Regions from separate parts of the Homo sapiens genome. Here all the other regions are reported to be linked to region 1. Evidence: microRNA targets listed by miRTarBase, many of them from high-throughput screens and not tested one by one. Region 1 holds a microRNA gene; each other region holds the end of a gene's coding sequence.
The links. The annotated mature microRNA hsa-miR-7847-3p reads CGUGGAGGACGAGGAGGAGGC and lies in region 1 at 1,381-1,401, opposite strand. An mRNA with a match to its seed (bases 2 to 7 or 8) in the 3' UTR can be bound and repressed. Matches are read on the target gene's strand: a 7mer-m8 pairs with bases 2 to 8, a 7mer-A1 pairs with bases 2 to 7 and ends in A, and an 8mer does both.

Region 2: miRTarBase lists GMNN as a target of hsa-miR-7847-3p. Seed matches in the 3' UTR shown: 7mer-m8 at 2,806-2,812.
Region 3: the mRNA of ZNF609 is a reported target of hsa-miR-7847-3p. Seed matches in the 3' UTR shown: 7mer-m8 at 807-813.
Region 4: the mRNA of C1orf174 is a reported target of hsa-miR-7847-3p. Seed matches in the 3' UTR shown: 7mer-m8 at 827-833.

The regions. Positions count from the first base shown.
Region 1 is chr11:1,878,326-1,881,505 of GRCh38, reverse strand. It overlaps MIR7847 (microRNA 7847), which reads right to left and starts at 1,461; the gene lies at 1,359-1,461. It overlaps LSP1 (lymphocyte specific protein 1), which reads right to left. Exons shown (of 11, transcript NM_002339.3): 2 at 1,282-1,419; 3 at 1-74.
Region 2 is chr6:24,785,477-24,788,656 of GRCh38, reverse strand. GMNN (geminin DNA replication inhibitor) reads right to left here. Exons shown (of 7, transcript NM_015895.5): 7 at 2,558-3,019. The coding sequence ends at 2,858. Among named protein-coding and RNA genes, the nearest start is that of ARMH2, 12 kb to the left of the region's middle.
Region 3 is chr15:64,681,037-64,684,036 of GRCh38, forward strand. It overlaps ZNF609 (zinc finger protein 609), which reads left to right. Exons shown (of 10, transcript NM_015042.2): 9 at 273-351; 10 at 656-3,000. The coding sequence ends at 346. Among named protein-coding and RNA genes, the nearest start is that of OAZ2, 21 kb to the right of the region's middle.
Region 4 is chr1:3,887,458-3,890,457 of GRCh38, reverse strand. C1orf174 (chromosome 1 open reading frame 174) reads left to right here. Exons shown (of 4, transcript NM_207356.3): 4 at 385-1,325. The coding sequence ends at 498. Among named protein-coding and RNA genes, the nearest start is that of C1orf174, 11 kb to the left of the region's middle.

The DNA.
Region 1 (3,180 bases):
CTGGCCTCTGGGACCAGTCGCCAAAGCCCTCGTCCTCATCCAGTTCAGGGGCCTCCGAGGGCTTCAGGCTGAGGCTGAGGGTAGCAGGGGGGAGCTTAGGCCTGGGCGGCTGCTGCCTCCTCTGCCCAGGGCCCACACTCACCTCACGGCGCCCGCTCAGGCCCTGGACTCCAAGTGTGGGAGACCCTGTCTGCCACAGAGCTGGCTCTGGGCTGTGTCTCCTGTGGTCAGAATACCTGAGGGCAGGGCTATGCCTCCCCCGTCAGTTCTGGGGCAGCCTGAGAACTGTGCTTCCTCCATCAGTCCAGGACTCCTTGAGGCTCAGCAGGGCTATGCCTCCTCCATCAGCCTGGGGCTACCTGAGGGCAGGGCTATGCCTCCCTCATCAGTTTGGGGCTCCCTGAGGGTAAGGCTGTGCCTCTTCGATCAGTGTAGGGCTCCCTGAGGACAGGGCTGTGCCTCCCCTGTCAGCCTGTGGCTCCCTAAGAGCAGGGCTGTGCCTCCCCCATCACTCTGGGACTCGCTAGGGCAGGGCTGGGCCTCCCCCGTCAGCCTGTGGCTCCCTAACAGCAGGGCTGTGCTTCCCCCATCAGTCTGGGGCTCCCTAGGGCAGGGCTGTGCCTCCCCCATCATCCTGGGGCTCCCCAAGGGCTGCCCTGGTCCCCACATGAGGACCCTACATGAGGTCCTCCTAAGCCCCGACTTCTCAGGCCTCCCATGTGGCAGGGGGAGCCCCTGGATAGCTGGGGCCCTTGGTGGGGGTGGCCAAGGGCCTGACTATGGTGACCGCTGAACCCCACTCTGCCCAAGGCTGCTGACTTGGAGAAAATGGAACAAAAGAGGCCAGAAGGAAGGGAAGCATTATTGGAAAAACAGCCCAGCCCAGCCGCGGAGGCCTCCTGGGCCCAAGGAGGAAGCAAGCCAGCCTGGCCGCCAAGTTGGACGTGGCTCTGTGAGTCACTGGCGGGGGAGTCTGGTGGGGGGCTCGGCCAGGCTGCGTGGCTGGGGTCAGAGGCGGTCCGAGCAAGGGCCAGGGCACGGACACAGAGCCTGGGTCAGCGCCCAGGAGGCAGCCAGGTATTGGCAGACCCTCCTCTAGGGCTGTGGCCACCCTCGCCCCAGGAGCACTCACCCACTCCCACGCCTGCTCCTGGGGGCCCTTCCTCGCTCTCATCCTGCACTGGAACCCCCAAGCCCAGGCCCTTGACCTCCCCCTCTGCCCAGGCCCCAGGGTACACGGATAGGGGCTAGAGCCCAGGCACGCGTTATGGGGCTGCTCACAGCATCTCCTGCTTCGGCCGCTCGGGGACATGGCCGCCTCCCTCCTCGTCCTGGGCCTGAAGCTGCCTGTCTCTCTCATGCTGGCATTGCTCGTGGACGGCCTCCTCCTCGTCCTCCACGCTCCACTGAGCAGTGGGCCTAGTGGGGGACACAGAGGGACAGTCACGCCACAGCCGACACAGGTGCTGTTTTGCACCCATTCCTCCCATCTACACAGGCCTTGCTGGGGCCACACGGTGCAGGCAGCCCTGTCCACGAGGTCAGTCCCAGGCCGGCCCTCAGGCCTCACCTTGTCCATCTTTAAATAGAGGCTGCCCACGTGGTCATGAGGTGCCCTCTGGCCCAGGCGAGGGTCCTGGGGCCCTGTGAGGATCTGGGCACCCCTGTGCCCTGTGGGGATGAAGGTGGGACTCCAAGGCCCATTCAAGCCTGAAGAAACTCAAGGACAGGACAAAAGGCCCTCTGTCCCCCTCTCCCAGCCTGCCTCCCTCCCTAAGTAGAACCAGGACCTAGACCCAGGTGACCCTGGAGGGCCCAGGAAGAAGATACTGGAGTCCAGGGAGACTGGCCGCAGCCCACCGCCAGGCGGCACCTCCACCCCACCTGCGGGTGCTCCCTCCTGCACCCCAAAGGCAGGGCGTGTTGGAGAAAGGGGAGGTCGAAGGCTGAGGAAAGGAGGGCCTGAGCACGTCCAGGCAGGACACCTCCTGTCCCACCACCAGCCCCGCTCACAGAAGCTCCGCAGACTCATGGGTCCTGCCTGGGCCTAACCCCATAGCTGGGGGCACCTTACAGGGTCGGCTCACCCAACCCCACCCCATCCTTATTTCAGAGCCCTCTGCGGAGTCTCTCTGAGCTGTTTCTTTTGTTTGTTTGTTTGAGACGGAGTTTCACTCTTGTTGCCCAGGCTGGAGTGCAATGGTGTGATCTGGGCTCACCACAACCTCCGCCTCCTGGGTTCAAGCGATTCTCCTGCCTCAGCCTCCTGAGTAGCTGGGATTACAGGCATGCACCACCATACCCGGCTAATTTTGTATTTTTTAGTAGAGACAGGGTTTCTCCATGTTGGTCAGGCTGGTCCTGAACTCCCGACCTCAGGTGATCCGCCCGCCTCAGCCTCCCAAGGTGGTGGGATTACAGGGATGAGCCACCGCACCCAGCCGATTGAGCCATTTCAAAAATGGGGAAACTGAGGTAAGGGAGTGCTTCTGCCCTCAGAGCCTGAAACCATGGCTTCTTGGGGTCCCACGCGCCCCCCTCAGGGACAGAGGTAGGCACAGGCTGGCCTGGACCTGGGCATCAGAGCCCCGGCCCAGCAGCTCTCAGATGGTCCAGGTCCTGCAGACACCGCAGCCTCAGCTGTCATGGCCCTGCCTCCCATCGCCCTCCTAGAGCCTGAGAGGGGGTCCAGGGTCTCTACACTCCTACAGGGCTTATTATCCCAGACCCAGGGAGGGAGCCCAGGCCAGAACAGGGAGCAGGGCTGGGGTCTCCCCACTGGGGTCTCAGTTCTTCCCGGCCAGTGGCCGCTGCCTGACCCTGCAGCCTGATCCCCACTGGGCCCCAGTCCCCTGGCCAGACAGCCCTGCCAGCGCGTGATCTAATCTCTCCTAGGTCTCCCCTAAGCCTCTCAGACAAAAGCCAGGCCCTTCCACAGGCCCGAGTTCAAGGCCCACTCCCCCCACCGAAGCCACAGGGGACTCCAGCCACGCAAACCCAGCCGCCTGTGCACCCCGCCCCCCGCGCCCCCGAATCCGCCTGCCTGTCCTGCTCCTCAGAAGTGCCTTCAACTCCCGGCCCCCGAGGAAGCCACTTAATTCCCCACACCTGGCTCCCATCATCCGGGCAGATGAGGCCCAGCTTCCCGCTTCTGCCGGCCTCCGCATGGCTGGGGGCTGC
Region 2 (3,180 bases), not on the chromosome of region 1:
AAACAGCCCCTACATGACCCTTAGGCAACTACTAATCTGCTTTCTCATTATACTTTGTAGTTTTGTGATTTTAAATAAATAGAAGCATACAGTATGTATTTACCTGGCTTCTTTCACACAACATTGAGATTCGTCCATGTGGCGTGTACCAATTTTTGTCCCCTTTTTATTGCTAAATAGTATTCCACTGTATAGTTATACCATAATTTATCCACTCAGTTACCAATGGATATTTGGGCTATTACAAATAAAGCTATGAAAATGTGTGAACTAGTCTTCATGTGGACATATGCTTTCGTTTCTCTTGGGTAAATACCCAGGGGTGGAATGGCTGAGTCATATAAAATGTGTATGTATAACTTTTAAGGAATTGTTCAACTTTTCCACAGCAGTTGTAGCATTTAGCACTGCCACCACCACTGCAGGAGGGTTTCAGATGTTTCACATCCTTAACACTCGATGGAGTTGTTTTTATTTTTCAAACTTAAAACAATTCTGAAAGGTATGTAGCAGTATCTGGTTGTCATTTAATTTGCACTTCCTTAATGACTAATGTTGAGCATCTTTTCATGCACTTAGTTTCCATCTCATACATACCCTAGTTCTTTATAGATACAAATCCTTTGTTGGCTATGTTCTGCAAATATGTTCCCCCAGTCTGTTCTTGCCTTTTCATTTGCTTGTCTTTCAAAAAGTTTTTAAAATTTACAACGTTTAATTTGAAGTTGATGCTTTTTTGTGTCCTATTTGAGAACTCTCTGCCAAACCCAAAGTCACTAAGAACTTTTCTATATAATCTAGAAGTTTTATGGTTTTAGCTACTACCTTAGTTTTTTAATCCCCTTCAATTCCCTCTCCTTTTGCTCCCCACCATCAAATTCTGGCATTTTACAAAAATACTTTCTATTTGTCAAGTCCCTATTCTACTTACCTATTTTCTTTCTTAACCATGCTAAAGGCCTCTCAACTGAGTCTCCTCATGCTCTAATCCAGAATATTCTTCAATTCCTTTAAAATTAATTTACCTATTAATCCTATCTTTAGGCTAGTGATCCACACCTGAAACACACAGAGCCACACTAACGTAATTGCCACTAGCTTCTTGTAGTGACTTAAATTAAAATGTCCATACCTCATTCACACTAGCCACACTTCAAGTGCTAAACAGCCACACAGAAATGGCTACCATACTGTACAGCAGATATTCTCATCATCCCAATAAGTTCTACTGGACAATGTTGTTATAGATTAATAATAGCTTCCATTTTTAAGACACTTAGCCTAGACACTAAAGGTTTTAATCTTCACGATAACACTATGAGGTAGGCTTTATCTCAGTATTAAAGAAAATTAAGGCCAGGCACGGTGGCTCACGCCTGTAATCCCAACACTCTGGAGGCCGAAGCAGGCGGATCGCTTGATGCCAGGAATTCAAGACCAGCCTGGGCAACATGGCGAAACCCCGTCTATATAAAAAATTAGCCAGGTGTGGTGGCACGCACCTGTAGTCTCAGCTACTTGGGAGGCTGAAGTGGGAAGATGACTTGCGCCCATCAGGTGGAGGCTGAAGTGAGCTGAGATTGCACCCCTGCACTCCCGCCTGGGTGACAGAGAGAGAAAATTAAGGTTCTATAAGGATGCTTACCTAAAACAATCCTTTCAAAAGCTTGAGGCCAGGCGTGGTGCCTCACACCTGTCATCCCAGCACTTTGGGAGGCTGAGGTGGGCGGATCACTTGGGGTCAGGAGTTCGAGACCAGCCTGGCCAACATGGTGAAACCCCGGCTCTACTAAAAATACAAAAACTAGCCAGGTGTGGTGGCAGGCACCTGTAATCGCAGCTACTCAGGAGGCTGAGGCAGAATCACTTGAACCAGGGAGGCAGAGGTTGCAGTGAGCCAAGATCATGCCATTGCACTCCAGCCTGGGCAACAAGAGCAAGACTCCGTCTCAAAGGAAAAAAAATAAAAGCATGACATTGCTCTTTATTGCCAATTTATACAAAACTACTTGTATGCCTCTCACAGAACTTTTTCAGTTCCAATGCTACATACCCCTAGTTTGTACTTTTCCTCCTTCAAAACTTAGTATATATGGGAAATCCCTAATGAATCTGACCCTACTCTTATTCTTCAATATTTACATACTTTGCACTATACCAATATGTGAAATAGAAAAGCTCCATAATTTTCAGCTATTCCTGATTTTTTCCGTCAAACTTCTACCCACTCCTCACTTTGTTTCTTGAGGATTATCACCATCATCCATCATTTTAAGCTTCCAAGAAGAGTCTGATCCTGCTAGCCAGTTGGGCCTCTCACTGTCTAATCAGATTCACTTGAAAAGCTTTTGGAAAATAGATTCTCATGCTCCATTCCAAAAACAACTTGTTAATATCAATAGTGTCTACAATGAGCTTGAGGTACAACAAAGTTTGGGAGTTAAAAACCTCAGCTATCTCAGTCTAAATACTTTAAGTTCGTTTTCTCCTTGTCTCCTCCAAGGTAGTTAGCAAAAGAATGGAAAGAGAACAACATAAAAGCATAGAAACAGACAAATTTTCTACACATACTCCTTATATTTCATTATTCTAAGTTATACACAATGTTCAACAGGAGTTTGAAGTTTATTTAGTAATAAACATAAGTCATGGCTGACAACTGAGAAAATCCTATTCACATAAACCATCATAGATTAAAAATACATAGTATTTGTACTTTAATGCAATAGGGTCCCAGGATTCAAACAAGGAAATTTGATTCCAGAGTTGGCATTATGTAGTTATGTACTCTGCTACAAAGAACTAGTGGAGGTAAACTTCGGCAGTAAAATTCTCAACAGTCAAATATTAATGCATTTCATATACATGGCTTTGCATCCGTAGAGGAAGATACAGTTCCTTCAGCACACGTGCCAATTTCTGAGTCTTCCACTAGAGAATCCTCAACAGTTTCTTCTTCAGAATCAAATTCCTGATTATCCAGTGATTCAAAATTATCCAGAGGTTCACCATTCAGTCTCTTTTAAAGAATAAACCAATAATTTATTGTAAAAATGTTAAAACCTAAGCTGATCAGCATACTGATATAGCTGACCCGTATAGCATACTGATATAGCTATGAGATTTTTTTCATCTTGCCCCTCAATAAATTCATTTATAAACAGTATTATATCAAAGTCT
Region 3 (3,000 bases), not on the chromosome of region 1:
AAGCATATGATATTTATTCCTCCCTTGGAGTTTGGGGACTCTTAAATTCCTCCAGAATACTGGCCTTGATAGTCAGAAGAATATGGAACAGGTGTTCCCCAAAGGCAAAGAGAAACAATCAGCTGAGAAATAGAGCCTTATTATCTATCTCCAGCAAATATATCTGGCTGAGTATCAGATTTTTTTTTCTGTCAGCACCCCAAAACTCAGGGAAAAAGATTAATGGAAGGTTTCTGTGAGTGCTACACTAACATGTTCTCCTGCTTATTCAGGGCTTTCTTCTACAGCCATTGTTGCCAGCCAACAAGGCTCAACTCCCTCACTCTACCCACCCCCCAGGAGGTGAGAATGGTAAGTCACTTTTATTAATTTGGGGCAACACATAAAGCCGGGATAGTTGCTACCTGGATCACAGAATCCCTAGGTGAGAAATAGCTATGAGGGGTCAGCAGTCTGGAATCCATGGAACCCTGGCCAAGCCTCTTGTACAAGAGTCTCCCGTGAAGCCATGTGCATCTGAGAGGACCTGTGGAACACAGTGTCCCCTAGGGACCAGTACTGGCCACTCCTACAATTCATTTTCTTGGAGTGCCACCTTGTGGTTTTTTTACCAACAGGCTGAGTGCCTGGTTATCTGTCCATGTTTCCCTTGCAGACACCAAGTGCCCGGATAAAGTCAGCTTCACGGGCCCGGACTGGCTTACCCAAGGAGGTGCTGAAGGTGCCGTTTAGACATCAGTTAAATGGTGTTGATCATCCTGTTTGCCGTTTCCACCATGACTGAAGGCAGACCCTTGGCTATCTCACCTCCACCAGACCTCCGGACTACCTGACCCTACCTCTTCCTCAGGAGCTGGAGAGCTGGTACTTAGCAAAAATATTTATTCTCTCAGCCACAGTTATGACTATTGTGGCCTCTGTGGAGATGAAGGCACGGGAAGCAACCAGGGGAACATGGCCTCAGCCCAGAGAAGCCACTGCTCTGTTCCCCAAGCCCTTGGTCTGCTGCTGGAGCAGTACCAGCCCCCCCGCCCACCAGGGAGGGACCCCCACCCCCAAGCACTGGGTAAGGTCTGAAGACAGCACAGCAGCCATACCCCTCACCATCATTACCACCATCACCAGATTCTGCATCTCCCTAGTGCTTTGCACCCTGGGAATTGGCAGCATGTGGAGGAACTAGAATCTCAGGAAAGAAATTGGGGGTTGTTTTCTACATAATTGTGAAAACAAGGTCTTCAAATGTGGAGACTTCTCCCCATTTACATGAGCACATATAAACGCTCACAACCTAGCCTGGAAAGGAAGACCAAGGCATCTGCCCCAACATGGCCTTGAGCTGCCTGTGAGGCAGGGGGCAGGGGTTCCAACACCAGCACAGGGCTCCCCAGGGACACTGGGAGCAAGCTGGTGCTGGAGCATGAATGACGTCTGTGAAGTAGAACCTGCGTCCCCACTAAGTCCTGCTGCTTCTTATTCCCCAACTCCTTGCCCTTTTCCCTTCCCTCCTAACCCCTTGGTGCCTTTCCCAGGGGGATCCCCACACTGGTCTTGCCTCTTCTTTTCCACTGCTTGGCTCTTAAGCCTCAGGCAGATAAACTAGTATTCCCCCCAGCTTGGGGAACCTTGGAGTCTGCCAGGTCACCTTAGGGCAAGGCCCAGAAGGCAGCCCCTGGGAGCACCCAGCAGTTCTTGGAGATGTCCTGTCATCTAGCCATCTGATATCTTCCTCATTTGAGGCCACAGATATATACAGCCCAATTCCTCTGTCTACAAGTACATGATTTTATATAGCTCAGTCTATAACCTCCATGTGGGCCAATATAAGCTGTGTTTCTTGGTAACACATATTTTGTTTGAGGGGCCACTGGCCATGGGAGGTTATTTGTTCCTTAGACCCTGGAATAACACATCCAAGCCATTACTTATTAGAGTCTCAGAATGTACTCAGTGGAGCTGTGCTTTGAGGCAGCCAACATTTCTCTGCTCTCCTTAGAAATGCAGTCTCCCAATGGAAGCTTTATACTCTTTGTACTGGGAAAGTGAGGATGATTTGGTAGCTTTATTGGGGTCATGTCTTCCCCAAGGTGTGGGGAGCTTAGCTTACTTGGCTTTTGAGGTATCATCCCTCTGTTCTCCCCTCCTATCTTTCCATGACCCTCTGGATTGAGAGAGAGAGATAAAGACTGACAGACACCAGTGTAGGCTGGAAAAGGGAGTGTGTGACCAGAGTGCCAAAAGTGACTAGGAGCAGGAACTTGGCTCCGACTCAGTTTGGAAAATGGGAAATAGGGGACAGTAAGCACAATGCCCAGTAGTAGTTGATTTCCAAGGACCCTGGAACCCTACACTTGAGAGGCTTAGGGTCACCATCTGCTCAAGAGGATCCCCTCTGATCTACAGGCCTTTTCCCTAGGTTTCTGCCTCCTCGTTTTTGTTCAAGTTGGGTTCTGAGTCCTCCCCAAAAACCATTGTTTTAGACCTCTTGGCAGGGCCCCAAAACAGCCTCCCTCATACCCATCATTCCCTCTGCCTTCTGCTGCCCTCATGGGCAGTGCTCTGAGCAGTGACCTCCCTTTCCTCCGTGGAAGTAGCTAGTGCAGACACCGTCATCCCACCCCACCTGAGTCACCCCAACCAAGAGGGTGACTGAATTTCAGCCTGATTATGCCCTCCTGGGGCTCCTGTGAGGTGGAGCCAAGGTTCCCTCTCTGTTCCTGTTTGTTTTTAAATATTGTTGTGTGTTTTGTATCTGTGGCACTGGCCTGCAGCATACTCTGTATATATTGTAAAGAAACCGTTAGGAGTAATTTTCTTTTGCATTGGGCAGGCATGGCCCTGCATTCCTGCCCTTTCCACTCATTCTGTAACACAGAGGACGAACTTCTGTATTAGCTGGGCAGCCTTGGGTTCTCCAGAAGAGAACAGGTTTTTCTTTTCCTTTTTAATTTTTCTTCTTAAACATTTGGCTCTTTGATCCTCATATCCAAGTCTCCCCTG
Region 4 (3,000 bases), not on the chromosome of region 1:
TAAACTAATCATTTTAACCCACGAGGAGAAAATGAAACCGTTGGCTAATTGGGGGCTCTCCCTGCATCTCCCGAGCTGAGAATCACTGCTCTCGGGAAAGGTGTGTTTCCATGAAATCAGGTTTGTGGTTTTTTTGAACATCCACCCCGCGCTTGCTGTTAATTTCTTTTGTTTTGAACCCAGCACCTTTCCTTCTCTTTACTCGATCAGCCCAGTAGGGAGGAAGTTCTCATCTAGAGGCGAGTGCTGGGACTCAGGCATTTTCACACGTCTAAAAGGGAAGAGCGCTCTGCGAGCCCTAGAGCCGCTGGGTGGGGCACATTGCAAATGCGGGTGCAGATATGTATTGCTCATGACTGAAGTCATGTTTTCTTCTCCACTAAGGACCTCCCACCTGCGTCTTCATCTTGTCCTTCAATGAGCAGACGAGAGTTCAGAAAAATGCATTTCAGAGCCAAAGATGATGATGATGACGACGACGATGATGCAGAAATGTAGGGGCCATACAAAATAATGTCCTTGAGTATTTAGTACCATTAACAATTTGACAATTTAGCACATTACAAGATTTATATAAAATGTATCTCCAAGAGAATGTCTTAATCAAACTTCAGAACTGACCCATCTAAGTCAATAGTGCAAAGCACCCAATACCTGTGGAGGATGTACTCATGGGAACTAAAACTCAAACCATCTTTGAGGTTGCAAAGCTGCTGTACTGTGCCAATGTCCTTTCTTTTTTTTTTTTTTTTTTTTTCCTTGGAGACAGAGTTTCTCTCTTGTCGCCCAGGCTGGAGTGCAATGGCGCAATCTCGGCTCACTGCAACCTCCACCTCCTGGGTTCAAGTGATTCTCCTGCCTCAGCCTCCTGAGTAGCTGGGATTACAGGCATACACCACCACACCCAGCTAGTTTTTGTATTATTAGTAGACACGGGGGTTTCTCCACGTTGGCCAGGCTGGTCTCAAACTCCTGACCTCGTGATACGCCCGCCTCAGCCTCCCAAAGTGCTGGGATTACAGGCGCGAGCCACCATGCCCGGCCAGTGTCCTTTCTTATACACGTACATACATGATGATGGCTTGAGTCAGCTGCAGGGCAGTGGGCTTAATGAGAGGGATCTTTGTAAAGACAGCTCTTCACTTCAGCTCAGTAGCTTTGGTCATAGGCAAGTTTGTTTTCCATTATCATAATTTGATGATTCTTGTGATGAATTCAATGCTAGTTCTTAAAGAACTCTTTTATTTCTGTATGTGGAGCTAATGTTTACCTTGGAAATTTTGCAAAATACATGTAAGAAAGAAATAAAATATATTTTGAAAATATTTTGAAAGCAGTCGTATGTTCGTAAAACCGGATTCCTTTCTCAATGCCTGGGAGCCGAGTAGAGGAAACACATCCTGCCTCAGTCTCATGCTCCCAAATGCTCATAAGGCTGGGTCCATCTTTTTTTTTTTTTTTTCTGAGACTGAGTCTCACTCTGTTGCCCAGGCTGGAGTGCAGTGGCACAATCTCGGCTCACTGCAACCTCTGCCTCCCGGGTTCAAGCGATTCTCCAGGCTCAGCCTCCCAGGTAGCTGGGATTACAGGCATGTACCACCATGCCTGGCTAATTTTTCGTATTTTTAGTAGAGACGGGGTTTCACCATGTTGGCCAGGCTGGTCTCGAACTCCTGGCCTCAGGTGATCCGCCTGCCTCGGCCTCCCACAGTGCTGGGATGACAGGCGTGAGCCACTACGCCCGGCACGGGTCCATCTTTTAGACCTGTTAACCACCGAGGCCCCCGGGACAGGGCCTCTTCCCTTCTCTCGAGTGTACTTCCACTCCCACTTTGCTGCAGAAGTGTCGGGCTTTCCTATCCTGTGTGGTGGAGACGGTCAGCCATCCAGCGAAGGCCATGCTCTCCTCCAGGCCATAGAGAGGTCCGTGTGCAGCTGCCTGACGAGAACTGCATTCCCCAGCCCCAGCGGCGTCAGGGAGCACCTCACCGTGTGTTCTCGCCCAGGGCAGTGGAGACAAGCCATTGGGAGTGCTCTCTCCATGGCCTCTTCCTGCCGCCACCTGCACATAGAAGCTGAGTGGACCAACCAGGAGCAAGCTGGGGTCCCCGGGTGACCAAGGACAAGGAGAAGTTGCCTGCGATGTGGGAAGACTGGGCCTTTTCATGAGGGAACAAGTGAGTCTTGCTGGTTTTGAGCTTTTATATGTTTCTGGTTTAATTACAAGAGCAGCTAGAATTAACCCTGTGAAAATGTCCTATGAAGCACAGGAAGGATTTTCTATAACAGATAAATTGGAAGCAAAATATAGTTGAAGTGCCCTGTAAGAAGTGTTTCCGCTCTTTACTATTCAAACACTGCCCTCCCTGAAGGTGTCATTCTCCACTTCTAATGTGATCCTTTTCTCATGAGCTGTGACTTTCACCTGTTTTGAATAACTTTGTGATTTATTGATCAACAAACTATAATTTGGAAATGTGGCTTATAAAGTCATTTTATGGTAGCCAGGGAAAATAATTTACAACTTTTGCCGGGCACAGTGGCTCACGCCTATAATCCCAACACTTTCAGAGGCTGAGGCAGGCAGATCACCTGAGGTCAGGAGTTCGAGAACAGCCTGGCCAACATAGTGAAACCCCGTCTCCACTAAAAATACAAAAATTAGCCGGGCGTGGTGGTGGGCGCCTATAATCCCAGCTACCTGGGAGGCTAAGGCAGGGGAATCACTTGAACCCAGGAAGCCGAGGTTGCAGTGAGCTGGGATCACGCCATTGCACTCCAGCCTGGGCAACAGAGCGAGACTCTGCCTCTAAAATAAATAAATAAATAAAGTACAACTTCAGATTGCTGCATGAATAACTATTAATAACAGCACCTGGCCGGGCGCGGTGGCTCACGCCTGTAATGCCAGCACTTTGGGAGGCTGAGGCGGGCGGATCATGAGGTCAGGAGATCGAGACCATCCTGGCTAACCTGGTGAAACCCCCTCTCTACTAAAAA